Regions from separate parts of the Homo sapiens genome. Here regions 2, 3, 4 and 5 are each linked to region 1. Evidence: fine-mapped expression QTL. A gene starts in region 1. Each other region holds a variant in brackets. All regions are shown on one strand. Distances are from middle to middle.

Region 1 (5,105 bases):
AGGGGTTGGCCAGGCTGACAGGAAGGTGGTCAACAGGAGAGTCCCAAGCTCCCACCAGCCCCTGGGAAGGCCCTGTGTGGACACAGCTTATAACATGCATTCAGCTGCGCACTTAAGATGTGTATTCTTTTCTGTAGTCATAAAGGTAAATATTATACAAATTTAAACTGCAAGACTTGACTCTCCTAGTTGGAAATGAGAAGAGATTCTCTCCCCAACAACTTTTAGGATTTCTTCCTCAGTCCTCTTCAAATGCATGTCAATCTTTTAAATGGCTAAATAAACCTCTTGGCAGTTTTACAACTCAAGAAAATTTCAAAACCTGGGACCCACCTCTGAAATGTAATCAAGGAAAATAACGCCCCGTTTCCCAGTGTCCTGGGAGGAGATGGGCCTACCTTGTCATCTGACTCCACACTGTAACTCACCTGAAGCAATGGGTTATGCTATGGTCTGAATGTTTGTCTTCCCTCCAAATTCATGGTTGAAACCCTAACTCCCAAGGTGACGGTTTTAGGAGGTGGAGCCTCTGGGAGTGACAAAGTCATGGAGGCAGAGAGCTCATGACTGGGGTTAATGCCCTCATAGAAGAGACCTCAGAGAATTCCCTCTACCTTCTACCATGTGAGGACACAGCAGGCAGACCCTCAACAGACACCAAATTTGCTGGTGCCTTCATCTTGGACTTCCTAGCCCCAGAAAGAAAGAAATTTCTGTTGTTTATAAGTCATCCATTTTAGGATATTTTGTTACAGCAGACTCATAGACTGAGACAGGCTGTATCCCCAAAGCTCCATAGAAGGATGAGATTTCTTTCTGTCTTTGCAGTTATTTTAGCTCATCCCCTTCTGGTTTAAGGCTTATTCAGTAACAGAACTGTTTTCTTTCTCTTCTACCTTTGTGGAAAGGTTTTCCAGGGTGGGGGTTTTGTTTTTAATATTTCCCCAACATATTTTATAATTCAAGAAAGATGTCGAAATATGCTTTTGATAATTAAAAGTATGTTAGCCCAAAGTAAAGGGGAAAAATGTATATTTAAAGTATACAGAGTATGCCGGGCATGGTGGTTCATGCCTGTAATCCCAACACTTTGGGAGGCCAAGGCAGGTGGATCATTTGAGGTCAGGAGTTCGAGACCAGCCTGGCTGACATGGTGAAACTCCGTCTCTACTAAAAATACAAAAATTAGCCGGGCGTGGTGGTACATGCCTGTAATCCCAGCTACTCCGGAGGCTGAGGCAGGAGAATTGCTGCCAGGAGGCGGCAACTGGACCTGGGAGGCAGAGGTTGCAGTGAGCCGAGATTGCACCACTGCACTCCAGCCTGGGCGACAGAGCGACTCCGTCTCAAGAAAAAAAAAAAGTATACAGAGTAAATGTAACTTTTTACTTTTAGTCTAGGACTGAACAATACTAAGTTTTAAAAAATCTATAATATGTCATTTTTGTACATTATATTTTGGAAATGTACAAAATATTAGGAAAAGTGGTAATTTTGGCAAATGTAGGAGGCAGTACATCTTACAGTTAAAGAGGTCAAGAGAGCAACCACTTCGCAGTCAGAGAAACCAAGCCTCACCCCAGTTCCAATACCTCTTCAATGTGTCATCTTAGGAAAGTTACTCAATCACTATTGAGCCCCGTGACATCTCACATGTGAGGTACAGTGTTAAGCAGCATTTTATGGGCATTATTTACTAAAATTGTTATAAGATCCAAGTTATCATTCCCATCTCAAAGATGAAGAAACCAGGACTCAAAGCAATAAAGTGACCTGCTCAGTGCTGTGAAGCTAAGAAGTGGTGGGGCCCAGGAATGACTGATCAGCAGGACCCCGGGACCCCGCAAAGGCCTCTTGATGTCACTAAACCCAGCAAAAAACATCTAGTTCCAAAACGGGTCATTTTTCAGTGCTCCATTGTCTCCCTGAGTTTCCTCACCTGTAAAACGGGTGTAAGTGCTCAGAATCCCTATAAGAACCAAATGAGGTTGTAACATTTCCCACAATGCCTGGAATGTAGGAATTATTCTGCATCCCTAAGTTGCCACTTAAGAGATAAAAGAAATCAGCAAAAGGCTTTCAAAAATAAATGGTCCTTTGAAGTATGAAAATTCAAATCCAGGAAACTCACCAAGCATGGCCAAGGTGCGCATGATCATATACAGTTGGTCCACAGCTATACCTGGAAACAAAGTTAAAATCCATCGTGTGGAACATATTTGCAAGAAAGGACATTCGATTCTGAGTTATAATGATCATATAATTTTTAAAGTAATCACTTCTGGGGGATGAATAGCCGGGGTTTTCATACTTGCTCAATTCACACCCAAACCTGCAAAAGCACCGCGCACCCCCAGCTTCTAGAACGGCGCCCTCCATGCAGCTTCCTAAACGCCCTCCCCGAGCCCAGATCCCGTTCAGCCGTGGGAAGTCTCCGCCACGATCGGCCCCCGCCCGTGCCCCAGTCCCGCGCGGCCCACCAGGAGGCGGCTTCGGCGTGCGCCACGATTAGGGGTTCCTTCCTCCCGGTGAGGCTGTTGTACACCTGCACACCCGTCTCCCGGCCCGTGGGCTGCAGCCAGGCCCGCCCGCGCCCCCCGCTCGCCGCCCGGCCCGCAGGCCAGTGCCACCCAGCCCGCCCAAGGCCCAGCGCGGCCTGGAGCAGCGGGGGGCCCAGGCCTGGGCCGCGCGTAGTCCTCAACATGTCAGCGGCCAGCGCCTACGACTGGGCGGAGACGGGAGCCACGCCGGGTACGCTGCCGGTCGCTCAAGAGCAGCACGGCCCCGCCCCGCCCCGCCCACGCCCTTGGGGCCACGCCCACTCCCGGAAGCAGTCCTCAGGTAGCGCCTCCCTTTGGCCTGGCTCGAGTCGCCCGCGGCAAGGGTGGAGAACCAGGGCCCGAAGAGGTTGGGGCGGGGAAGGCCCGGGGTGGAGGGAGGAGGGCGGTGCCGCGCCGGGAGGCCGTGGGAAGAGGCGGTACCGTGCCGATCTCCTCTCCTTATTAGCCCAGGTCCTGCGAGGCGTCCGTGTGCGCGCGGTACCAGCCTGGAGCTGTGTCCGCCGCGCGGGAGGAGCGTTTACAGTGCAAGCTTCTGTTGCCGGGCCCTGGCCTGTTAGCGAAGCACGTGTGCATCCCAGCACAGCCCACGTCAGCACGCTAATACACAGTGTCCACCCCAGAACACACGTCAGCACCCCAATACAGTGTGCACCCCAATACAGTGTGCACCCCAAACACACATCTGCGCCCCAATACAGTGTGCACTGCAGCACACCGTTAGCATCCCAACACAGTGCACCCCGATACACAATGTGCAACCCAACACACAGTCTGCACCCCAAGAAGTGTGCACCCCAATACACAGTATGCACCCCAGCACACACATCAGCATCCCAATACAGTGTGCACCCCAATACAGTGTGCACCCCAGCACACACATCTGCACCCCAATAGTGTGCACTGCAGCACACCATCAGCATCCCAACACAGTGCACCCCGATACACAGTGTGCAACCCAGCATACAGTCTGCACCCCAATACACAGTATGCACCCTAGCACACACCACATCAGCATCCCAATACAGTGTGCACTCCAATACAGTGTGCACCCCAGCACACACCATGTCTGCACCCCAGTACAGTGTACACCCCAATACAGTGTGCACCCCTAATACACTGTGCACTCTAACACACACCATGTCTGCACCCCAGTACAGTGTGCACCCCAACACAGCACATGTGCATCCCAGCAAACACTGTCTGCATTCCAATGCAATGTGCACCTCAATAGAGTGTGCGCCCCCACACATCTACACCCCAATACAGTGTGCACCCCAATACACAGTGTGCAACCCAACACACACCATGTCTGCACTCCAATACACAGCATGCCTCCCCCACCATGATCCCGTATCTTGAGAACAAAAACATTCTGAAAGTTACTCACAATAGCTTGACAAACGTGCCTCTATTGGGCCAGGCGCAGTGGCTCACACCTGTAATCCCAGCACTTTGGGAGGCTGAGGCGGATGGATCACCTGAGGTCAGGAGTTCGAGACCAGCCTGACCAATATGGTGAAACCCCGTCTCTACTAAAAATACACAAATTAGCCGGGCGTGGTGGCGTGCATCTGTAGTCCCAGCTACTGGGGAGGCTGAGACAAGAGAATCGCTTGAACCCAGGAGGCAGAGCTCACAGTGAGCTGAGGTCACACCACTGCACTGCAGCCTGGGCAACAGAGGGAGACTCCGCCTGAAAAAAAAAAAAAGTGCCTCTATTGGTGTCTTGCAATACGATGTCTCAAAAAAAAGAAAAAGTCCCCTTTGCTTTTCCAGTTCTCAAAACAGGAGACGTTCCTCTGGTTTTTTGTTGTTGTTTTTAGTTTGCTTTGGTGTTTTATTAAAAAGCAAAGGTTTAAGTAGAGACAAACAAGTGTGTACCTAGAGTAGTTTCTCAATATCCTGGAGTCCAACTCTGCAATTCTGTTTCAAGCTAACTGTAGTCTAATGTAATCTATTGTCTAATTTAATAAGGTTAAAATGTTAGAATTAGGAGACCCTATAGCCTACATCAATGCTAACCACTCATGTTACCTAACTACTCTAAATTCTCCTGAATATTATCACTTCTTGCCTGCCTTATGTTATTTTGTAACTTTCCAGTGCTGTGTGTATATTTATCTCCCTGAGTATCTTAAATTGTACATTATTTTGAACTTCTCACTGTGCCCTGCACTAAATTCAGAAAAGGACTTGGGTTTTGTTTGTTTTGTTTTGCTGTGGCTGGAAAAAAAAAATTTAGAAGAAATAAAAGGGCTTGTTGAATGTTGATGAATTAATCCCTTACGAAAGGGATTAATTGTGCAGGTGGGAAGAAATCTGGGTAGTAAAATACCTGATAAAGCTGATTCAGATATTAGATGTGCCAGTAAATAAAGCAAATTAACAAAAAGCTCAGTTGCAATCTGTGAGAACACACGAATTCAAGGAAATAACTGGAGCAGAGATTCTGAAAGCAGCTTAGTAACACTGAAGATCAAATCTGCACATGAATCTGGACATGCGGTATATTTGAATTGTTCATAGAACATCACAACTTTTAAA
Region 2 (5,105 bases), 20 kb before region 1:
GCAGAGGTCAGGGACCCACAGGGCTGAGCCCGGCCAACCCACCTGGCTCTCCGACTGGACCAGGGACCACGCCGACCAATTTGCCATACTTGTCTCCTCTAGACTTCAGATCGAAGTAGACATTGCCTGTTTATAAAGACAATTATGAATTCATCACTTCTCAGTCTGAATATCAGCATATTGACAACCTTAACATCTAACAAGTAATTAGAATTTAAATACAGAACATAGCATTTGGCCCCATATACATATATAGTATTTATATTTTTATAGACAGGGTCTTGCTGTTGCTCAGGCTGGAGTGCAGTGGTACAATCACAGCTCACGATAGCCTTGAACTCCTTGGCTCAGGCAGTCTTCCCACCTCAACCTTCCCAGTAGGTGGGGCTATAGGAGTGACACCATGCCTGGCTTAATATATTTGTTAACCAGAATTAAAAACAATACTATAAGATAAATGCATGATTTGGACATATCATGAGTACACAGACGTGAAAGTGAAAACACAAATGTAAGTTCTCTGTAAACTACTGAGACAATTATTTAATCAGAAAAAAGAAAAGTGTTATCACTGACCTTCATTTAGATCTTGTGCCTTGTGTTACACAACAGCTAACAAAGACACTCTTTCTTTACTTTATGTTACACACCAGCTAGCAAAGACACTCTTTCTTTGCCCAGTCATCTTCTAAAACTACCTTTTTACTCAGATTGAAAACATCATCTGGCTGGGTGCAGTGGCTCACGCCTCCAATCCCAGCACTTTGGGAGTCCGAGGCAGGAGGATTGTTTGAGCTGAAGAGTTCGAGACCAGCCTGGGCAACATAGTGAGACCCCATCTCTACCAAAAAAAACACACAAAAAAATCATCTGCATATTGAAGTGTCTGTGAGGCTGAGTGCCAAGGTCCGCTTTGCAGTCTGAGGTCAGAACCTTCTCCAGAGCCTCCTGCAAGCCTGGGCTGCCCTTGCCCCTTCCACCACAAAGCCTAAGAAAGCAGAGCTGGGGAGGAGGCACTCAGAGTGGGAGCTTTGTCAAGAAGAAAGCACTACCAACCTATGCTCCAAGGCTGCCCGGCTGCAGCCGCTGTGTGTTCCAGGCCATGTGTCTCCCTAGGAAGGAGGCAATGCTCATCCGGGCTGTGACCATGGCCATTCTCAGTACCACAGATCCGCAGCCACCATCCAGCACCCTCCAACCACACAGCAGCATGTAGCTGTCCTCAGGCCCCAGGCGTGGGTGCAACTTTTAGCCTTTACAAAGTTTGAGTCTTCACATTCTTTTTTACTAATGCAGTTACTGATTTGCATCAGTACTGTCCTTACTGCGGACACTGGTGTTGGTAAGATCAAGGAAACTTTGCAACTGGCAAACACAAGCTGCACCCAGGACCTGCCTCATGTCCTCAGCCTGGATGTCCCCCTCCTGTCCTCTGGTTCATCCCCAGCACCGAGTGCCAGCTTAGTGGTCAACCCCGAATGACCAGGGAGGACGCTGAAGGGACAGGGCAGGGTTTTCTGTTGAAATGTCACCCGGCTTTGTTTGCCCAAGCCACACTGGCCTTTCCTCCCACCAGTGACCATTGTGCTCAGAAAACCCTGCCCTGTCCCTGCAGCGTCCTCTCTGGTCATTCAGGGTTGACCATTAAGCTGGCACTCGGTGCTGGGGATGAACCAGAGGACAGGAGGGGGACATCCAGGCCCTGGGAGCTGCTTTCTATGAAGTCAGAATATAAACAGTGCTTTAAAAGCGCTTCACTGGAGAGAAACCACTCCCTTAAATGGTGGAAACATTCCCCCTTCACTTTGCTTTATGTTATCAATTTGCTGAAGAAATTGTTTTTCACCAAGAGTTCAAAGATCAAATTACAACCAAGCCCTTGTGGAATTGTAACAAAGTCCAAATTACTGGGGTTTGATTGAATGTAAGTGTATTTTGAATTAATTATATTTATACTATCATTAAATTGTTTATAATAAAACACAGTAACAAAACAACAAACAGCATTCAATCCTCAAGCCTGTGAAGACGAGAATCCCTAAAGACTCGTGAACATTTATCACTTTATTCCTAAAATGGAAGCACAGGCCCACATATCTTATTTCAAGTTACACGACAGCAAAAAATTAATTCCTGTGTTTTCTGGTGCAAACTCTAATTCAACCACCTAAGTCCTTTAAAAAAAGTTTTTCCTGGGAGGCTGAGGCAGGAGAATTGCTTGAACCCGGGAGGCGGAGGTTGCTGTGAGCCAAGATTGTGCCACTGCACTCCAGCCTAGGCGACAGAGCAAGACTCTGTCTCAAAAAAAAAAAAAGTTTTTCTTTGAAACAAAATCTAAATATACCACATTAGAACAAGTAAAAAGCTACTTCCATACACAGAGCCTACTGAGCAGATCCTCAGGGCCTCACGTGCTCATCTTACGCTCCAAGTAGGACCCAGGAAGGACAGGAACGTCCAGGGCAGTGCTTCATGCTTTCTGACTCATTGCAACAAACATTCAATACCTACGTATCTTCAGCCGTCGGCTGGATACTT[T/G]AAGGCGTCATTCAGTAAAGCAAAAGGTTTTTATGGTCTGAGAATTTATGATCTAGATGGGGACAAAATATGAATACATTAAACAGCAAACTATGGCAGTGCAGAACTGGCTGCCAAATGGTACAGCAGAGATATCAAGGCTGAGAAAGTAAGTTCACTTTCAACTGTGCTGGGTGAAGGAGAACTTCATGGAGAGATGAGGCTGTGGTCAGGGTTTGCAGCCAGGATGGGTGGGATTTAGTTCGGATTTATGGCGATGCTTCATCACCAAAGCAGCAAAACAGCAAGACGCCAGCCTTGCCTGGGGTCCACCAGACAAAGATTAGCATCCGCAAACCAATGAAACCACCTGCAGTAAGCAACATGCAAATCTAAACACAGACTGCTCCACAGGAAAACTGACCTGTCAGAGTCTTGAATCTACATGTGCTTACCCAGAAAAAATGAAAAAAAAAAAAAAAGAGAAAAAAAGAAAAAAAGAAAGAGGAGGGGAAAAAGTGAGGAGACTAAACCAACAAATGCACACGCAGCACATGCCCTGGGGACAAGTGAGTATATTTAATACAGAGAGGACACGCGAAGCTAGCCAGAAATTCTTCATTGTCTGAGGTCTGACCATGACATCTGGACTCCTTTTATGCAGAGATGCATGTTGAAGTGTCATGGCTGATGCGACAGAACATCTGCAACTCACGCTTTTTTTTTTTTTTTTTGAGACAAGGTCTCGCTCTGTCTCCCAGGCTGGTGTGCAGTGGGACAATCATGGTTCACTGCAGCCTCGAATTTCCTGGGCTCAATCTATCCTCTCACCTCGGCCTCCTGAGTAGCTGAGACTACAGGAGCACGCCACCATGCCTAGCTAATTTTTATATTTTATTTTTGTAGAGAAGGGGTCTCTCCATGTTGCCCAGGCTGGTCCTGAACTCCTGGACTCAAGTGATCCACCTGCCTCTGCCTCCCAAAGTGCTGGGATTATAGGTATCAGCCACCACGCCCAGCCCTGCAACTCACTTTTTTATTTTTATTTTTTGAGACAGTCTGGCAATGTCACCCAGGCTGGAGTACAATGGTGTGATCTCGGCTCACTGCAAACTATGCCTCCTGGGTGCAAGCAATTCTCATGCCTCAGCCTCCAGAATAGCTGGGACCACAGGCGCGCGATACCAGGCCTGGCTGATTTTTTGTCATCTTAGTAGAAAGAAGGTTTTAACATGTTACCCAGGCTGGTCTCAAATTCTTGGCCTCAAGTGATCCACCCGCTTCCACCTCCCAAAGTACTGGGATTACAGGCATCAGCCACCATGCCTGGCCCTGCAACTTTTTGTTTTTTGTGCAGGGGAGGGTGGGTGGACGGAGTCTTGCTCTGTCACCAGGCTGGAGTGCAATGGTGTGATCTCGGCTCACTGCAACCTCTGACTCCCGCAACTCACTCGTAATGGCCTGTGAAAAAACGATAGCCAAACAGACGGGGGTGACCTGGGCTGACTTTTAATAAGAAGAGAGCAGGTCTCTGGAGGTACTGTGTTTGTCCCCAACTTTTTGTTAGGAAAATACCTAAACAAAGATGAAATAACACCACAATGAACACCTGTACACCTACCACCTAGATTCCACGACTGTTACCAAGACTAGCTGTCCAGACGTTCCCCTCTCCCTGGAAAAGATATTTAGAACTAATTCAACCATTTCGCAAAGAGACACAATATTGTAGAAAACCCCACAACAGCTTTGCTGTTGGAATCCTAGCAAGACAGAAGTAAATTTTAGTATGTTCCTACAGCTGATAAATACATCCAGTTTCTCCAAATCCCAGTAATGTTTTAGTTTTAAGAACATAAACCGGCTGGGCACAGTGGCTCACGCCTGTAATCCCAGCACTTTGGGAGGCTGAGGCAGGTGGATCACAAGGTCAGGAGTTTGAGACCAGCTTGGCCAACATGGTGAAACCTTATCTCTACTAAAAATACCAAAACAAAAAAAATGTAGCCGGGCATGGTGGCACGCACCTTGTAGTCCCAGCTATTCAGGAGGCTGAGACGGGAGAATCGCTTGAACCAGGGAGGCAGAGGTTGCAGTGAGCTGAGATAGCACCACTGCACTCCAGCCTGGGTGACAGAGTAAAACTCTGTCTCAAAAAAAAAAAAAGAAAAAAAAAAAAAGAACATAAACCCTACCTTTTGCCGTTGAATAAGCGTTCCCACGAGCAATGATTCCTTCAATGAAAGAAATTATCTGAGGAATATTTTCGGTTACCCTCAGGTACACCGTGGGTGGGAGAACCTGCAAGGAAGTGGAGACGTGACCGTGTTTCCCTCGTGAGAAGCACAGGTCAGCCAGCACCAGCTGTCATTGCTCACGCCTGTCACCCTCATGGCAGGAACAACCAGCCCCACACTTTACCTTCAGGGCTGCCATGTCCTGCTTGAAGTCTTCCTCATAAAGACTGGCGAGGGAAGCGGGGGAAATATTCATCTGCAGAAGGATTAGATGTGCACGTTAATGAGTCTGGGGCATTCGCAACAGAACCACCCAGCCACAAGAAAGCCCACGTGCACAACACGACAGCA
Region 3 (5,105 bases), 48 kb before region 1:
GTGCACACACACACCTGCTCCGAGAAAACTAACCGCTGCTTCAGGAGAGAAGCCGGGCAACAGTGAACGTGGTCGGGCAGGAGGCCTGCTTTCCAGACTTAGTACCTTTGAATTTTTCTACCGTGTGGTTCTCTGTCTTGTCTGCAGTTTTCAAACTTTCTGAAATTAAACCCATCATGTCTATAATCAAATTAAAACCTCACTTAAATTGTTAGGGAAGAGGCGGCATGCATACGACACTGCCTCATGAATGAGACAGAGGAGAAAGGTTTATGTGTATTGGCCTATCGTGTGTAACGGAACACAGGAAGATGAATCCAAAACAGAGAACACAACTGTGGCTGCTGGGGAAGGAATGGGTGCAGGCGGGCTCCAGGCCAGCCTTCTCCATGCTCTCTTTAGTGTTAATGCTGAACCCTGCAAATGTTTCACAGATATGACAAATAAAAGTAAATTGGGACTGGATGCAGTGGCTCACGCCTGTAATCCCAGCACTTTGGGAGGCCGAGGCAGGTGGACCTGAGGTTAGGAGTTCAAGACCAGCCTGGCCAACATGGTGAAACCCCATCTCCACTAAAAATACAAAAATTAGCTGGGTGTGGTGGTGTAGGCCTGTAATCCCAGCTACCTGGGAGGCTGAGGCATGAGAATCACTTGAACCTGGGAGGCAGAGGTTGCAGTGAGTTGAGATCACACTAATGCACTACAGCCTGGGTGACAGAGCAAGACTCTCAAAAAAGACAAAACAAAAAGTAAATTGAAAAGGGGAAGAGAGAGACCACCACACTGGAAACAAACAGAACAAATGAACCTCTTGTGTTAATGAAAGGAGATCATTACATGCCGCGAGTGTATGTTCAGACCACAGAGCTTTAGTGGGGTGCAGTCCACGAGAAAAAGAAATTTCAGTCCAGAATAGGTGAATCACAGAAACAGAAAGTAGATGAGCGGCTGTCGGGGCTGGGAGGAGGTGGGAGTGAGAAGTGATGGCCCATGGATGTGGCGTTTCTTTTTGGGGTGATAAAAACGTTCTTAGAGGCCGGGCGTGGTGGCTCACGCCTGTAAGCCCAGCACTTTGGGAGGCCGAGGCAGGTGGATCACAAGGTCAGGAGATCAAGACCATCCTGGCTAACATGGTGAAACCCCGTCTCTACTAAAAATACAAAAAATTAGCCAGGCGTGGTGGTGGGCGCCTGTAGTCCCAGCTACTCAGGAGGCTGAGGCAGGAGAATGGCGTGAACCCGGAAGGCGGAGCTTGCAGTGAGCCAAGATTGTGCCACTGCACTCCAGCCTGGGCGACAGAGTGAGACTCTGTCTCAAAAAGAAAAAAAAAAAAACGTTCTTAGATAGTGGTCGTTTCACAACTGCGAATATCTTACAAACCACTAAGCAGTACCATTTAAATAGTATACTTATATAGTATGTGCATTACATTTCAATAAAGCTATTAGTTTAAAAAGAAATAAGAGAAGCCTTAAGTTTTACTCAATAGTTTTACTGTTAATGGTAATATTGGTATTAAGTTTTTAAATTTATTTTGTGTGTATTTTAAGATAAAACAAAAAGTTGATATGCTCTTATGTTTAGTAAGAGAGGAAAATAAAGAGCTAAAACTAAAAAGCCCTGTGATATTAAATTTTATTTGGATATATCAAAATTAACCCAAATAAGGAATCTATTTTGTATGTGCAGGTTTATCTCCCTCTCCCCTAGCTCTGACCCCTGAAAAAGCGTAGACGCAGTGTCACTCTGGTAGCAATCAACATCGCAGTGCCCAAATCTTGCCTTCAAAATCCCATTTCCCCTCAAAGGCAGGGTGGCTGCTTGGAGAAACGGCAGGTCTGGGTAGGAAAGCAAAAGGCAGGCAGGTGCAGGAGGGCACAACAGAGGCCGAGGGGTCTGTCCCTGGGGGACCGGAGCCAGTCAGAAGAGCCCTCCCTGGCTAAATCCGGGATGATTTCAACACCCAAAAGATAATGACTGAATTGACAATACACTAAATAAATATAAATCACTGACTCTGTCTACTAAAAAAAGAAAGACAAAAACACTTTTCTTTAAGAAGAATGCCAACTAATAAATGTAAAAGAGGGAACAATTAGACAACCATGACTTTGCAATAACCAATGAAATACCTGATCAAAGTGAAGCCTCTAAAACCATAGGGTGGAAG[C/G]TTATTAGGAAACAAATTACCATGCAGCATGCCACCTCTCAGATGCTTAATATTCATAAGAAGAAAATAAACTCTGCAGTAGAGGGATCTGGTAGTCATTCCTTAACAAATGGTAAAACTCACCATCATGAATCGTAGGACAACCTGACCTTGCAGCCCCCAGGGAATGCACTGTGAGTTCACAGCATCAACTACAAGGTATTCCTGCCAAAAAGCTTCTACCTGGATCAAACTGACCCTTTAACCCTCACTTCCCGTGAAACGAACTACAGGAGATAGAAGAACAAGCTAAATGACAACACAATGAAACAGACAAATCCAAAATGTGGGATGTTCAACAAGACAAGTGGCTCAATCTCTTCAAAAAGTCAACACCACAGGAAAAATAAAAGTAGAAAGACTGCTGTAGATTAGATTAGAAACCTAGAAAGAACAATGAAATATAATTCAGCCTAAAGGAAGGAAATTTTGACATGGAATAAAGGAGCACAGGTGAATCTTGAGAACACCATGCTAAGTGAAATAAGCCAGTCACAAAAGGACAATTACTATGTGAGTCCACTTACACGAGATCTAGAGCAGCCAAAATCATAGAAACAGAAAGTAGAAGGGTTGTTGCCAAGGCCTGGGGAAAGGGGAAATGGGAAGTTGTTCAGTGAGTCCACAGTTTTGGTTTTACAAGATGAAAAAATTCTAGAGATCTGTTGCATAACAATGTGAACATATTAACACTACTGAACTGTATGGTTAAGATGATAACTTTTATGTTACGTGGTTTTTTTAACCACATTAAAAAAAACCCTAAAAAGACACAACATACAAATGCAACATATGAACCTTGATCAACTCCTCGTTTAAAAATAAAAGTATAAAACACATTTTGGGGATAACTGGAGAAAACAGGCCAGGCGCAGTGACTCATGCCTGTGATCCCAGCACTTTGGGAGGCTGAGGCAGGTGGATCACCTGAGGTCAGGAGTTCCAGACCAGCCTGGCCAACATGGTGAAACCCTGTCTCTACTAAACAAAACAAAACAAAAATTAGCCAGGCATGGTGGTGTGCACCTATAATCCCAGCTACTCGGTAGGCTGAGGCAGGAGAATCATTTGAACCTGGGAGGTGGAGGTTGCAGTGAGCTGAGATCACGCCACTGTACTCCAGCCTGGGTGATAGTGAGACTAACAAAAAAACAAACAAACAAAAAAAGAAAAACAGACTACAGACTAGATAATATTAAGAAATTACTGCTAACTTTTTAGGTGTTTGGATTATGTAGGAAAGCATCCTTATTTTTAGGAGTTGGTTACAGAATAGAGAAGTGTGATGATGTCTTCAATGTATTTCCTAATGGTCAATAACAAGCATTATATACAGGTGTCCATGTGCATACATGCTCACACAAATGTGCACATGCACACACACGCTCACCACTCCCATAAACACAGATAAAGCCCCTGAAGGGTACCACAGCCTGCCAGCCCTGAATATGCCTCCCTGGCATACAGATTATTTTGAGCTAAAGACCACTGAGAACAAGCAGATGCAGGAAATGCTCTAAAAACAGGGTGCAAGTTTTCCTTGTAAACAAAGCTCCCAGTTGTAAAAGATGTATCCTGCTGTAGCAGGGTGAGGACTCCCTAACAACTCTCAATAGAGAGGCTCAATCTGCAAAACAAATTTTACTCAACAATCCTTGTTTATCACTTTTCCTAGTCACCCTCCCAAAACTTGCCTGCCCCTCCTCAAGCCCAGATCTCCTTTTTTTTTTTTGTTTGGCCTAGCATGGTTCACAGGCAGACCTCAGACATACTGAAGGGTTGGTTCCAGACCACCACAATAAAGCGAATATCACAATAAAGCAAGGCACACATATTTTCTGGTTTCCCAGTGCATATAAAAGTTATGTTTACACTATTATACTGCAGTCTATTAAGTATATAATAGCATTATGTCTGAAAGAACAATGTACGTACCTTAATGAAAAAATATTTTATTGCTAACAAAAATGATAATCATATGAGCCTTCAGTGAGTCATCTTTTTGCTGGTGGAAGGTTTTGATTCAATATTATGGCTGCTGACTGATCAAGGTAGTGGTTGATGAAGGCTGAGTTACTGTGGCAATTTCTTAAAACAAGACAATAATGAAGTCTGTGCCATCAATTGACTCTTCCTTTCATGAAAGATTTCTCTGTAGCATCCAATGTTTGATAGCATTTTACCCACGGCAGAATGTCTTTCAAAATTGGAGCCAATCCTCTCAAACCCTGCCATTGCTTTATCAACTAAATTTATGCAATAGTCTAAATCCTTTGTTGTCATTTCAACAATGTCCACAGCATCTTCACCAGGAGTAGATTCCATCTCAAGAAACCACTTTCTTTGCTCATCCATAAGAAGCAACTCCTCGTTTGTTCAACTTTTATCATGAGGTTGCAGCAGTTCAGTCACATCTCCAGGATCCATTTCCAATTCCAATAGTTCTCTTGCTATTCCCACCATATATGCAGTGACTTCCTCCAATGATGTCCTGAACCCCTCAAAGTCAACCATGAGAGTTGGACTTAACTTCTTTCAAACTCCTGTTAATGTTAATATTTTGACCTATTCCCATCAATCATACATGTTCTTACTGGCATCTAGAATGGTGAATCCTTTCCAGAAGGTTTCCAATTTACTTTGCCCAGCTCCATCAGAGGAATCACTATCTATGGCAGCTATAGCCTTATGAAATATTTTTCTTAAATAATAAGACTTAAAAGTTGAAATTATTCCTTGATCAATGGGCTGCAGAATGTTCTGTTAGCAGCATAAAAACAATATTACTCTCATTGTATGTCTCCATCAAAGCTCCTGGATGACCAGGTGCACTGTCAATATTTGGAAAGGAATCCTTTTTTCTGAGCAGTAGGTCTCAACAGTGGGCTTAAAA
Region 4 (5,105 bases), 58 kb before region 1:
GGGGTAAATGGGTCTTTCCTTAAAAAGTTCCCCACAAAAGCTCTCTCTGTGAAAGGGCCATGAATGCAGTGGGGACATGAGATGTGTCCCCTGAGGATCAAGCACACAGAATTTCTCAGCCTCAGGGGCTCCTGAGAGCTTGTTCCCCAGGTGGCCCTGAGGCCCGGGAGGGTCAAGCCCCAGGCTGGGTGCCATCCCGTGTGTCAGCGGCAGACTCGGGCTCCATGAGTTCCTCCACAGAAGCTGCGGGAGGCGAAATCAGCAGAGATGCCACCCAGCCGACATGAGAAAAACCCACCAGAGGACCCGACCCATGCCCCTGGCAGCAGGACCGCAAGGCCACCTGTTCGTTGAGCTACCTTCAGGGACGCCCTGAGCTGTCCATTCCCGTGGTGTGCAAGGCCCAGGATGGCATCAACCACCCTGGGTGTGTCAAAATCATCTGCCAAGGCCGCCTTCACGGCCCTCTTGGTGCTGGAGAGCCTGAGGGAAGAGGAGAGAACAGTCACAGCAGAGGGAGCTCCACTCTCCCCAGGCGGCCCCCACACCAGTCCTTCCCCAGGGAGAGACGCTGGGGGCTCTAATCTGGGGACTTTCTCTAGGTCATATTCCCAAAGACTTGAGTTCCTGAGTAGCAGAAAATTATGTAACATCAACTGCAAACTGTCATGTTACCCCAAGAAAAAGTCCCAGAGCAGAGGTCACCTGTGACACTTAAAATACAAGACACACGTGGGCATTTTCATGATGGTTTTAAAAATCAATAGATATTGAGGGGAGTGGCAAGGAAGACTCGGTGGGGGAGAGACGGCACGGCTGACCACTCACAAAGAGAGGCTGGGGAGGCCCAGCCCGGGGCTCCCGGATCTCAGCCTCCCGTGGCCACTGGCTGCCTACCCTGCTGAAGTGGCAGGGGTGGGTTATCACCAAGACCATCCGGAAGACTCTGCATGCCGGGATGAATGTGCAGCGCTGCCCAGGACACCCGTGGGTGGGGAGTGGAGGCGATGCTGTGGGCCCAGGCCTGTGTGTTTTATAGATTTTGGCTCCTCACAGTCAGGACTGGGAGGGATGAGCAGCTCCGCTCCTCGCACAGGGAACCCGAGCCCAAAGCCACTCTGAGCAGGGGGCTCAGAGCCCGAGGGCCCCAGGCACACTTCCTGCCAGCGCCGTCTCCCTGGGATGTCTCGGGAGCCCCTGACCCCACACCTCCTGTCCAGCACCCAGTGTCCTGTGGCCTCTGGGGAGCCCCTGACCCCACACCTCCTGTCCAGCTCCCAGTCCCCTGTGGCCTCTGGGGAGCCCCTGACCCCACACCTGCACCTCCTGCCCAGCACCCTGTCTCCTGGGGCCTCTCTGGGCAGTCCCTGACCCCAAACCTCCTGTCCAGCGCCCTGTCTCCTGGGGGCCCCTCTTCCCCTTCAAGAGCCCACCAGCAGCACCCAGCAGGCCACAGGAGGGGTGCCACGCCGGGTGCTAGGCGGGCCTCTTACCTCTCCCACAGCATCGCTTCCCTGACGGAGCCGCAGGCCAGCTGCCCCTTCATGTAGGCACGTGCGTCCTCCAGGAAAGAGCCCAGCCCCAGGAGCAGCTGCTGAGCTTGGAGCATGGCGCTGTCACTGTAGTCGATGGCTGAGGAGGAAGAGATGGTCACTGAGGCGGTGCCCACCATGCTGTGCCCCTGCCCTGGTCCAGCAGAATCAGTGTTTTCTGAGGGCACTGCCACCCAGGGACCACACGGAGAGCGGGACATGTGGCTCTCACGCCCTCCAGTGACCGCGAGTCCCTAGGCCCACTGGACACAGACCACAGGGTCTGTCCCAGCTCAGTGGCACCTGCCGTGGGAGAACAAGGTGGCGGTGGAGACATGCTCCCAGTGCTTCCAGCCAAGAGGTGCATTTCCACTGACTGGATGGAGGTGCGGATGAATGGCTGGCTCTGGAAAGAAGGAGCCCCGCCCTGGATGGATGGAGGTGCGGATGAATGGCTAGCTCTGGAAAGAGGGAGCCCCGCCCTGGGGTCAGAGGCACCTCTAGGGAAGGCCCTCCCGAGGGAAAGTGCCTGTGTGTGATGGGACAGCCCAAAGAGGGAGGGAGGAGCAGTCCCCAGACCTGGCTTTAGAGTCTGTGGGTGTTTCTTAGGCCACCTGGATGAGGGGCCAGTGTTTCTGTTTACATCTGTTCATTTCTTGTGGTTTCTAGTCTACTGCATTCTGATGGGTAAGACAACAGGAGTGAATCGCTTTGCAATGATCACATATCCTTGGATATCAGCAAAGCCAGCCACATATTTCTAGAACCTTCTCGTGCCTACTCTGTTTCCCAGGCTGTCTGAGTCCACAGTCCATGCTTTTGAGGAGTGCTGCTTTAAACAGCTCTTTGAAAACCACAAGAATAAAAAGAGCCTATCTGGACACATATGCTGAAAATTACATCTCAACATGCCTCCAAGTCCTGACTTCAAAACGAGAATTCCAAAATCAGACATGGCTTCAAGCTGGAAGCAACACAGTGAAAACCTCCCCCAGGGCTGTCTAATATCTTACTTAACATTTTTCCTTTTTTTCTAAATTCACTTTCAGTTTTTGCTTTGAATAGCTTGATAGAAAAGAGAAAAAGCCAGAAACCCACAAAGCGATCTGACAAAATTTAAAGATAATATTCGGGGACTGATAGAGTTGATGCATGGGAGGCTGTTAGAATAAGATTACCATTAATGACACAGCAAGATGAGGCATCCAGATGGGGAGGGGCAGACAGATGCCCAGGATGGAGACGCCTTCTGCCTCAAGGTCAAGGACAGCTGCATTTCTCCAAAGAGGATTCTGCTCTACAGATGGGAGACACTTCTCCAAAGTGTCAGCGCAGCACAGACTGCAAGGGATGCCACCACCGTCCCCCTCCATCTTCCCAAAGGTGAAGAAAGAATGTCTGGGAAGATCCCGAACTCCCACACCATTCGTGGATGGAAGCTCAGACAGCAAGCGAC[G/A]GCCCAGCTCCTCAAGGCCACCTCCGACCTCGGCGGGGTGGGGCAGTCGTGTCCACTGTGGGGATCCACGTCCTGACTAACCTTGTGTTCCTAGAAATCCCTCACTGGCAGATCGGTGCCTCCTGAATCCCACCCAAAATTCCCACTGGGAATGTGTTCCTGAAAGAGCTGCCCAGGCTTGAGAAAGCCTCTTTTCAGACCAAACTTCGTATTCAAAGCTCAAAAAGAACTGCACACAATTAGGACAGTCATACAAGATGCTGCCCCTAATCCTGCCACAATCTGCGAGAAGGGAGGCGGGGCTTCCGAGGGCAAAGTGCCCCTGGGAAGGGATCCGCAGGGAACAGCTTTGAAAGGACCACAGCCCCCAGCCACGAGGGGAGCAAGCACGAGCCGGGAAGAGAGCTCTGCGCTCGCACACGGGATTCATCTCCGCCGCCTCTGCCCGTTTCCAGCAACACGGAGCCAGGCGGAAACAGTTTCTCCAGCCCATTCGCCTCCCCGACTCTTCCTCTCACGGCACGGCTGGGCTGCTTTCATCACGCGTAAGTGCACACCACACACAGATGCTGCACGAGGCCAGGCGAGCACGAGGCTGGCCACACTTCTTTCTCAAGCTCGTGCGCCCGTGAGCGCAGGTCCCCTGGGCCGATGCACTGCAGTTCCACCCAGGGGAGAGGTTCAGACCACGTCTCAGAAAACCTGAGTTTGCAGTAGAAAGCCAACGACGTGGCGTCAGAGCCAGGATAAAGACATGGCCCAAGGTAGCCTTTCGGTGGTCAAAGGTGCAGGTGTCTGTGTGCCCCTCTCACGCTGACAGGAGCTGCAGGCCGGGTGAAATTCTGCAGGCACAGCACAGGGGAGGGAGATGGATAGGGGACCAGCCCAGGGGCTCACCCAAACCCACCAAAGCTTTGTGTGTGACATAAAGTGTGCTGGCCAGATAGATTCACCCCATGGGGGAATGAGAATAAACTATGTTTCGGCTGCATGTCCCCACTCCCATCGTCTTCATTAAAAAGGTGAAATCATCAATTTGGAGCAAGAGAGCTACGTAGGAGGGACAAGAAGGGGGAGAGGGAGGTGGCATGACAACAGCAGCGACCCAGGGCCTCGGCAGTGTCAATGGAGCAGAGGGGACACCAGAGGCCAGAAGGACAGCAACCCTCGCTCACCAGGAAGGAACTGTCACCATCTCCAGAGGACACTGGCCCTGCTCCTGCAGCACTAGCCATACACTGGGACCTTATTGCCAGTTAGGTGGTCAAGCCAGGCAGGGCAGTATCACTGTCCCCAGCCCTCACTTGCCACCAGGGATGCAGCTCTGGATAACGACTTTTTTTTTTTTTTTTTTTTTTTTGAGACAGGGTCTTGCTCTGTTACCCAGGCTGGAGTGCAGTGGTGCGATCTCAGCTCACTGCACCTCCGCCTCCTGGGTTGAAGTGATTCTCCTGCCTCAGCCTCCTGAGTAGCTGAGATTACAGGTGCATGCCACCAAGCCAATTTTTTTGTATTTTTTTCAGATGGAGTCTTGCTCAGCCACCCAGGCTAGAGAGCAGTGGCATGATCATGGCTCACTGCAGCCTCTGCCTCCCAGGTTCAAGCAATTCTCCTGCTTCACCCTCCTGAGTAGCTGGGATTACAGGCACACATCGCCATGCCTGGCTAATTTTTGTATTTTTAGGAGAGATGGGGTTTTACCACGTTGGCCAAACTGGTCTCGAACTCCTGACCTCAAGTGATCCACCTGCCTCAGCCTCCCAAAGTGTTGAGATTACAGGTGTGAGCCATCGTGCCAGGCCTTTTGTATTTTTTGTAGAGATAAGATCTCACTATGTTGCCCAGGCGGGTCTCAAACTCCTGGACTCAAAACATCTGCCAGCCTCGGCCTCCCAAAGTGCTGGGATCATACACGTGAGCCACCATGCCAGGCCAGTGCTAGACAACTCCTGGCCAAGAGCCTAGCCCGGGGCAGCAGGTAACTGTGCAGCATGGGAGGAACCGTCATCACCCATCCAGGAGACCTTGCTCTGCTACACACCGTTCGGGGAAGTGCTGCCCCTGGGCAGGACAGGCAGGGTCACGTTTGAGGGCTCCCATGTTCAGGGGCCGTGCCA
Region 5 (5,105 bases), 29 kb after region 1:
AAAATATTCTCTTACAGTCTTTACATGTTTTTCAAATATCTCTTTTATCCATCTGGAATTTATTTTGGTTTTTAGGGTGGGGAGTCACTGAAATTCTTTGACAAAATGGAAGAATGTGAGGGATGCCATGTGGTATAGGGAAAGAGTGCTGGCCCTGAAGCCAGAGGACCTGGTTTCAGTCTCTGGCACGTACCAGCTGTGTGATCTGGGTGGAATTTCTTCATTTCCTTGACCCTTCGTTCCTCATTTATAAAATGAGTAATGATGCCTACCCCTCAGAGTGTTAATTCATACGACGTTCAAATGAGATAATGTATTAGTCCATTTTCACACTGCTATAAAGAACTGCCTGAGACTGGGTAATTCATGAAGAAAAGACATTTAGTTGACTCACAGTTCGGCATGGCCGGGGAGGCCTCAGGAAACTTACAATCATGGCGGAAGGTGAAGGGGAAGCAAGGCACGTCTTAATGGTGGAAGAAGAGAGAGAGAGCAAAGGGTAAGTGCCGCACTTTTAAACCATCAGAGCTTGTCAGAACGAACTCACTGTAACAAGAACAGCATGGGGAAAATCCACCCCCATGACTCACCCAGGTCCCTCCCTTGACATGTGGGGATTACAATTCGAGATGAGATTTGGGTGGGGACACAGAGCCAAACCATATCAGATAATATATGTAAAAGTGGCCATAACTTAATGATGTGTATTAACCCCTCTAAGTATTTCCTCAAATAGATGGTCATTGTCTCAAGCCAGTATTGAATACTCCATTACCTTCTCATTCATGAAATGTCAGCTCTATGATATATTAAATTTTCATAGACACGTGGGTGTCTCAGTTAGTTTCCACTGATTTATTCATTTATGTCAGTGAAAAATCTTCACTGTTTTCATTTCACTAGCTTTATAGTACTTTTTAATATTTAATAAGGCAAGCGCTCTGTTTGCTTCCTGTATAGTTCATTTTTGCATTGCTATAAAGAACTGCACGAGACTGGGTAATTTGTGAAAAGAGGTTTAATTGGCCTATGGTTCTGCAGGCTGTACAGGAAGCATGGCTGGGGAGGCCTCGGGAAACTTACAATCATGGTGAAAGGCAAAGGGGAAGCAGGTATGTCCTTCATGGCCGGAGAAGGAGAAAGAGAGTGAAGGGGGAGGTGCTACACACTTTTAAACAACCAGATCTTGTGAGAACTCACTATCACAAGAACAGCAAGGGGGGAAATCCACCCCCATGACATAGTCACTTCCCACCAGGCCCCTCCTCCAACAAGGGAGATTACAATTTGACCTGCGATTTGGGCAGGGACACAGATCCTAACCATATCACTTCCGTTAATGATTATAGATTAACTTGGAGAACACCTATACGTTTGGAACATGAATCTTCTCATGCAGAATATGAAGTATTTCCATTTATTCACGCTATCTATGATAGCCTTCAGTTATATTTTACAGTTTTCTTCACATTTCTTTCTGGTGTGTTGTGTTTTAGTTGCTACCACACATGGATCTTTTTTCCATGACTTTGCTCCATTGGTTCCTATTTACATGTAATAACAAGTTAATGTTTGTAGGTTGATCTCAGATCTGGCCACCTTGCTGATATTTCTCATTTGTTCTAGAAGTTTGTCAGTTGACTCTCGTAGACTTTCTAGGTAGAGGACTGTCAGTACAACATTGCCAGTGCCATGCCCGTGACTGATAGTGGGCATCTCTGCTTCCTTTCCTTTCGTCCTTTAATTCCCTCTTACTGAATGAGCTGGGACTTCAATGAAAGGTTAAGTACAGTTGGCAATAGCAGGCATCAGAGTCTTGTTCTGATTCAAATGGAAATGCTTTGAATATGTCACCATTATTCTGATGTGCCAGGTATTTCCAAAAAATATTGTTTTGTCAGGTACAGGCAAGTTTCTTTTATGATTTTTGGTATTTTTAGAGTATTGCCAGAAGTTAATGCTGAATTCTGTCAAATACTTTTTTGGGGTTGAGGCTGAGGATAGCTATGTGAGCTACGTGTGGATCTTCTCCATTTATTTATTTATTTTAGGGACACGGTCTCATTGTGTCACCCAGGCTGGAGTGCAGTGCTACGATCAAAGCTCACGGCAGCCTTGAACTCCTGGACTTAAGCAATCCTCCTGCCTCAGCCTCCTGAGCAGTTGGGATTATAGATGTGAGACACCATACTGGCCTTTTTTTTTTCAATTCAGTAAATTTTGATCCCATTCCAGCATATGTAGCTTAAAAAACAATAATAATAATAAATGAATTTCGAAAAATCTTGGCATTATTGGGATGGACTCTTCCTGGCTGTGATGGATTATTCTTTTAGTCACCACTGTATTTGATTTGATAATTTTTTGAGACAGAGTCTTGCTCTGTCACCCAGACTGGAGTGTAGTGACACAATCTTGACTCACTGCAACCTCCACCTGCCGGGTTCAAGTGATTCTCCTGCCTCAGCCTCCCGAGTAACTGGGATTATAGTCACCCGCCACCACACCCGGCTAATTTTTGTATTTTTAGTAGAGACAAGGTTTCGCCATGTTGGCCAGGCTGGTCTCGAGCTCCTGACCTCAAGTGATCCGGCTCCCTGGGCCTCCCAAAGTGCTGGTATGACAGGCCTGATTTGATAATATTCTATTAGTAAGTTTGTGTCTCTGAGATGGGGCTTTTAAAAAAGCTATTCTTGT[AGTGTGT/A]GTGTGTGTGTGTGTGTGTGTGTGTGTGTGTGTGTGTGTGTGTGGAGTATATTAACCTTATGGAATGAATTTAGGAGGTTTACCTTTTTTTTTTTTTTTTAATGCCCTGGAAGCATTTATTTATCCTTCGAGGGCAAATTCCTCTTCAAGGAATTATTTGTCCCTTGAATATTTGTTAGAAATAATAGGCAAACAATAATCTTTGCAGTAAGTCTTTGACTACCTTTTCAATTTCTTCTCTTCAGGGTCTCTATCTCTTTTTTTTGTTGTTGTTGTTGAGACAGAGTCTTGCTCTGTCGCCCAGGCTGGCGTGCAGTGGCACGATCTCGGCTCACTGCAACCTCCACCACCTGGGTTCAAACGATTCTCCTGCCTCAGCCTCCCCTGTAGGTGGGATTACAGGGGTATGCCACTGCGCCTGGCTAATGTTTGTATTTTTAGTAGAGACACAGTTTCACCATGTTGACCAGGCTGGTCTTGAACTCCTGGCCTCAGATGATCTGCCCGCCTCAGCCTCCCAAAGTGCTGGGATTACAGGCATGAGCCACTGTGCCTGGCCTCTATCTCTTCTTGACTCAGTGTTATCACTTTCTATTTTCTTTATCCCATATTATATTTTCCATGAAAATGTTCTATTTCATCTAGGTCTTAAAATGCATTGGCATACTGTTGAACATAGCACTTACTTTTTCATCACCTTGATGACTCTGGTTGTATCACCTTTCTCATTTCTAATATTATCGATTGTATCTTCTCTCTTATTTCTTAAATTGGCTTGTCACATACTAGTCCATTTAATTGATCTTTACAATAAACCAGTATTTGGTTTTATTGATTAAATCTATTCTTTTTTTTATTTTTTTTATTTGAGATGGAATCTTGCTCTGTTGCCCAGGCTGGAGTGTGATGGTGATATCTTGGCTCACTGCAGCCTCTTCCTTCCAGGCTTAAGCAATTCTCCTGCCTCAGCCTCCCAAGCAGCTGAGATTACAGGCACACACCACCACCCCTGGCTAATTTTTGTGTTTTTAGTAGAGATGGGGTTTCACCATGTTGGCCAGGCTGGTCTCGAACTCCTGACCTGAGGTAATCCACCTGCCTTGGCCTCCACAGTGCTGGGATTACAGGCATGAGCCACTATGCCCGGCCTGTTATTATTTTTCTTTTATTGATTTATTATATTATCAGCCTGATTTTTACATTTCTTTCAGTTTTTTTTCTCATAGCTTCTTGAGTTAAAAGCCTCTTGTATTTTCAGTCTTTCTGGTTTTCCAATACATGAATTTAACACCGTAAAATTTCATCCAAATACTCCTTTGTTTGCATCCTGCATATTTATAATGTCATTCATTTCTAATAGACTGTATTTTTAATTTTATATTTTCTGTGAGTAGTTACTTAGAAGCACATTTTAAATTTTTCATAGGTATAATACTCTCCTTCAGCTATCCTATTAATTTTATCACTGATTTTATGATGCTGTGGCCAGGCATTCTCTGGTCCTCATGATTTCTGCTTTTTTTTTTTTTTTTTTTTTGAGATGGAGTCTCACTCTGTCACCAGGCTGGAGTGCAGTGGCACAATCTCAGCTCACTGCAACCTCTGCCTCCCGGGTTCAAGTGATTCTTCTACCTCAGCCTCCAGTGTAGCTGGGACTACAGGCGCGTGCCACCACGCCCAGCTAATTTTTGTATTTTTAGTAGAGATGGGGTTTCACCATGTTGGCCAGGATGGTCTCGAGCTCTTGACCATGATCTGCCCACCTCAGCGTCCCACAGTGCTGGGATTACAGGCATAAGTCACCACACCTGGCCTGATTTCTGCTTTTTAGAAATCTTTTTGTCCCTCTGATATTCTTGCATGTGGTCAATCTCCTATTATTTAGACATTGTGTAGCCACAATTATTTAATCTGTCAATTTCTAAGAAAAGTGTATTCATGTAATTTATATGGTTGTGGATTTGTTAGTTTCTTTTATTTCTACAAGTTTTCACTTTTGTGTGTGTCCTATGTATATACATGTACATATATATTACTCTATGTGTATATATGTGCTATATGCATATACATATATGTATATGTACATATATACCCACATTTTATACATGTATGTACGTATATGCGTCTGTGTATATTTATGGTATATGGTGTGTATATATGTGTATATATGTATATGCTATATGTATATGGTGGATATACTTTGGCTCTGTGTCCCCACCCAAATCTCTTCTCCAATTGTAATCCCCATGTGTTTGGGAAGGGGCCTGGTGGGAGGTGATTGAATCATGGGGGCAGACTTCCCCCTTACTCTTCTCATGATAGTGAGTTCTCACAAGATCAGGTTGTTTGAAAATGTGGGGTACTTCCCCCATTGCTCACTCTCTCTCCTGCTCCACCATGTA

Alleles and levels. Positions count from the first base shown, and alleles are read on the strand shown. Sizes are in standard deviations (SD) of each study's normalised expression. Not every link is listed here.
For the expression in skeletal muscle of the gene that starts at base 2,727 in region 1, A is the low allele of the variant in region 5 and AGTGTGT is the other (moderate effect, 0.42 SD a copy in FUSION).

The links. PIP is the estimated chance that this variant, and not a neighbour inherited with it, causes the effect.
Region 2: its variant is the best candidate, but not a certain one, in a credible set for the expression of CARS2 in whole blood (INTERVAL, PIP 0.84).
Region 3: its variant is the best candidate, but not a certain one, in a credible set for the expression of CARS2 in blood mononuclear cells (TOPMed, PIP 0.84).
Region 4: its variant is the best candidate, but not a certain one, in a credible set for the expression of CARS2 in whole blood (TOPMed, PIP 0.60).
Region 5: its variant is the best candidate, but not a certain one, in a credible set for the expression of CARS2 in skeletal muscle (FUSION, PIP 0.82).

What each region holds. Positions count from the first base shown.
Region 1 is chr13:110,703,390-110,708,494 of GRCh38, forward strand. It overlaps CARS2 (cysteinyl-tRNA synthetase 2, mitochondrial), which reads right to left and starts at 2,727. Exons shown (of 15, transcript NM_024537.4): 1 at 2,481-2,727; 2 at 2,132-2,182. The coding sequence starts at 2,704. RefSeq lists a silencer at 2,535-3,094 and enhancers at 3,145-3,524, 3,535-3,654.
Region 2 is chr13:110,683,009-110,688,113 of GRCh38, forward strand. It overlaps CARS2 (cysteinyl-tRNA synthetase 2, mitochondrial), which reads right to left. Exons shown (of 15, transcript NM_024537.4): 4 at 4,939-5,010; 5 at 4,713-4,818; 6 at 43-126. Among named protein-coding and RNA genes, the nearest start is that of CARS2, 21 kb to the right of the region's middle. The variant T/G (reference allele first, on the strand shown) is at 2,539.
Region 3 is chr13:110,655,566-110,660,670 of GRCh38, forward strand. All of the region lies in intron 9 of CARS2 (cysteinyl-tRNA synthetase 2, mitochondrial), which reads right to left. Among named protein-coding and RNA genes, the nearest start is that of NAXD-AS1, 42 kb to the left of the region's middle. RefSeq lists an enhancer at 2,943-3,052. The variant C/G (reference allele first, on the strand shown) is at 2,174.
Region 4 is chr13:110,645,608-110,650,712 of GRCh38, forward strand. It overlaps CARS2 (cysteinyl-tRNA synthetase 2, mitochondrial), which reads right to left. Exons shown (of 15, transcript NM_024537.4): 11 at 1,494-1,632; 12 at 360-483. Among named protein-coding and RNA genes, the nearest start is that of NAXD-AS1, 32 kb to the left of the region's middle. RefSeq lists an enhancer at 3,481-3,980. The variant G/A (reference allele first, on the strand shown) is at 2,989.
Region 5 is chr13:110,732,644-110,737,748 of GRCh38, forward strand. No RefSeq gene overlaps it. Among named protein-coding and RNA genes, the nearest start is that of ING1, 21 kb to the left of the region's middle. The variant AGTGTGT/A (reference allele first, on the strand shown) is at 2,698.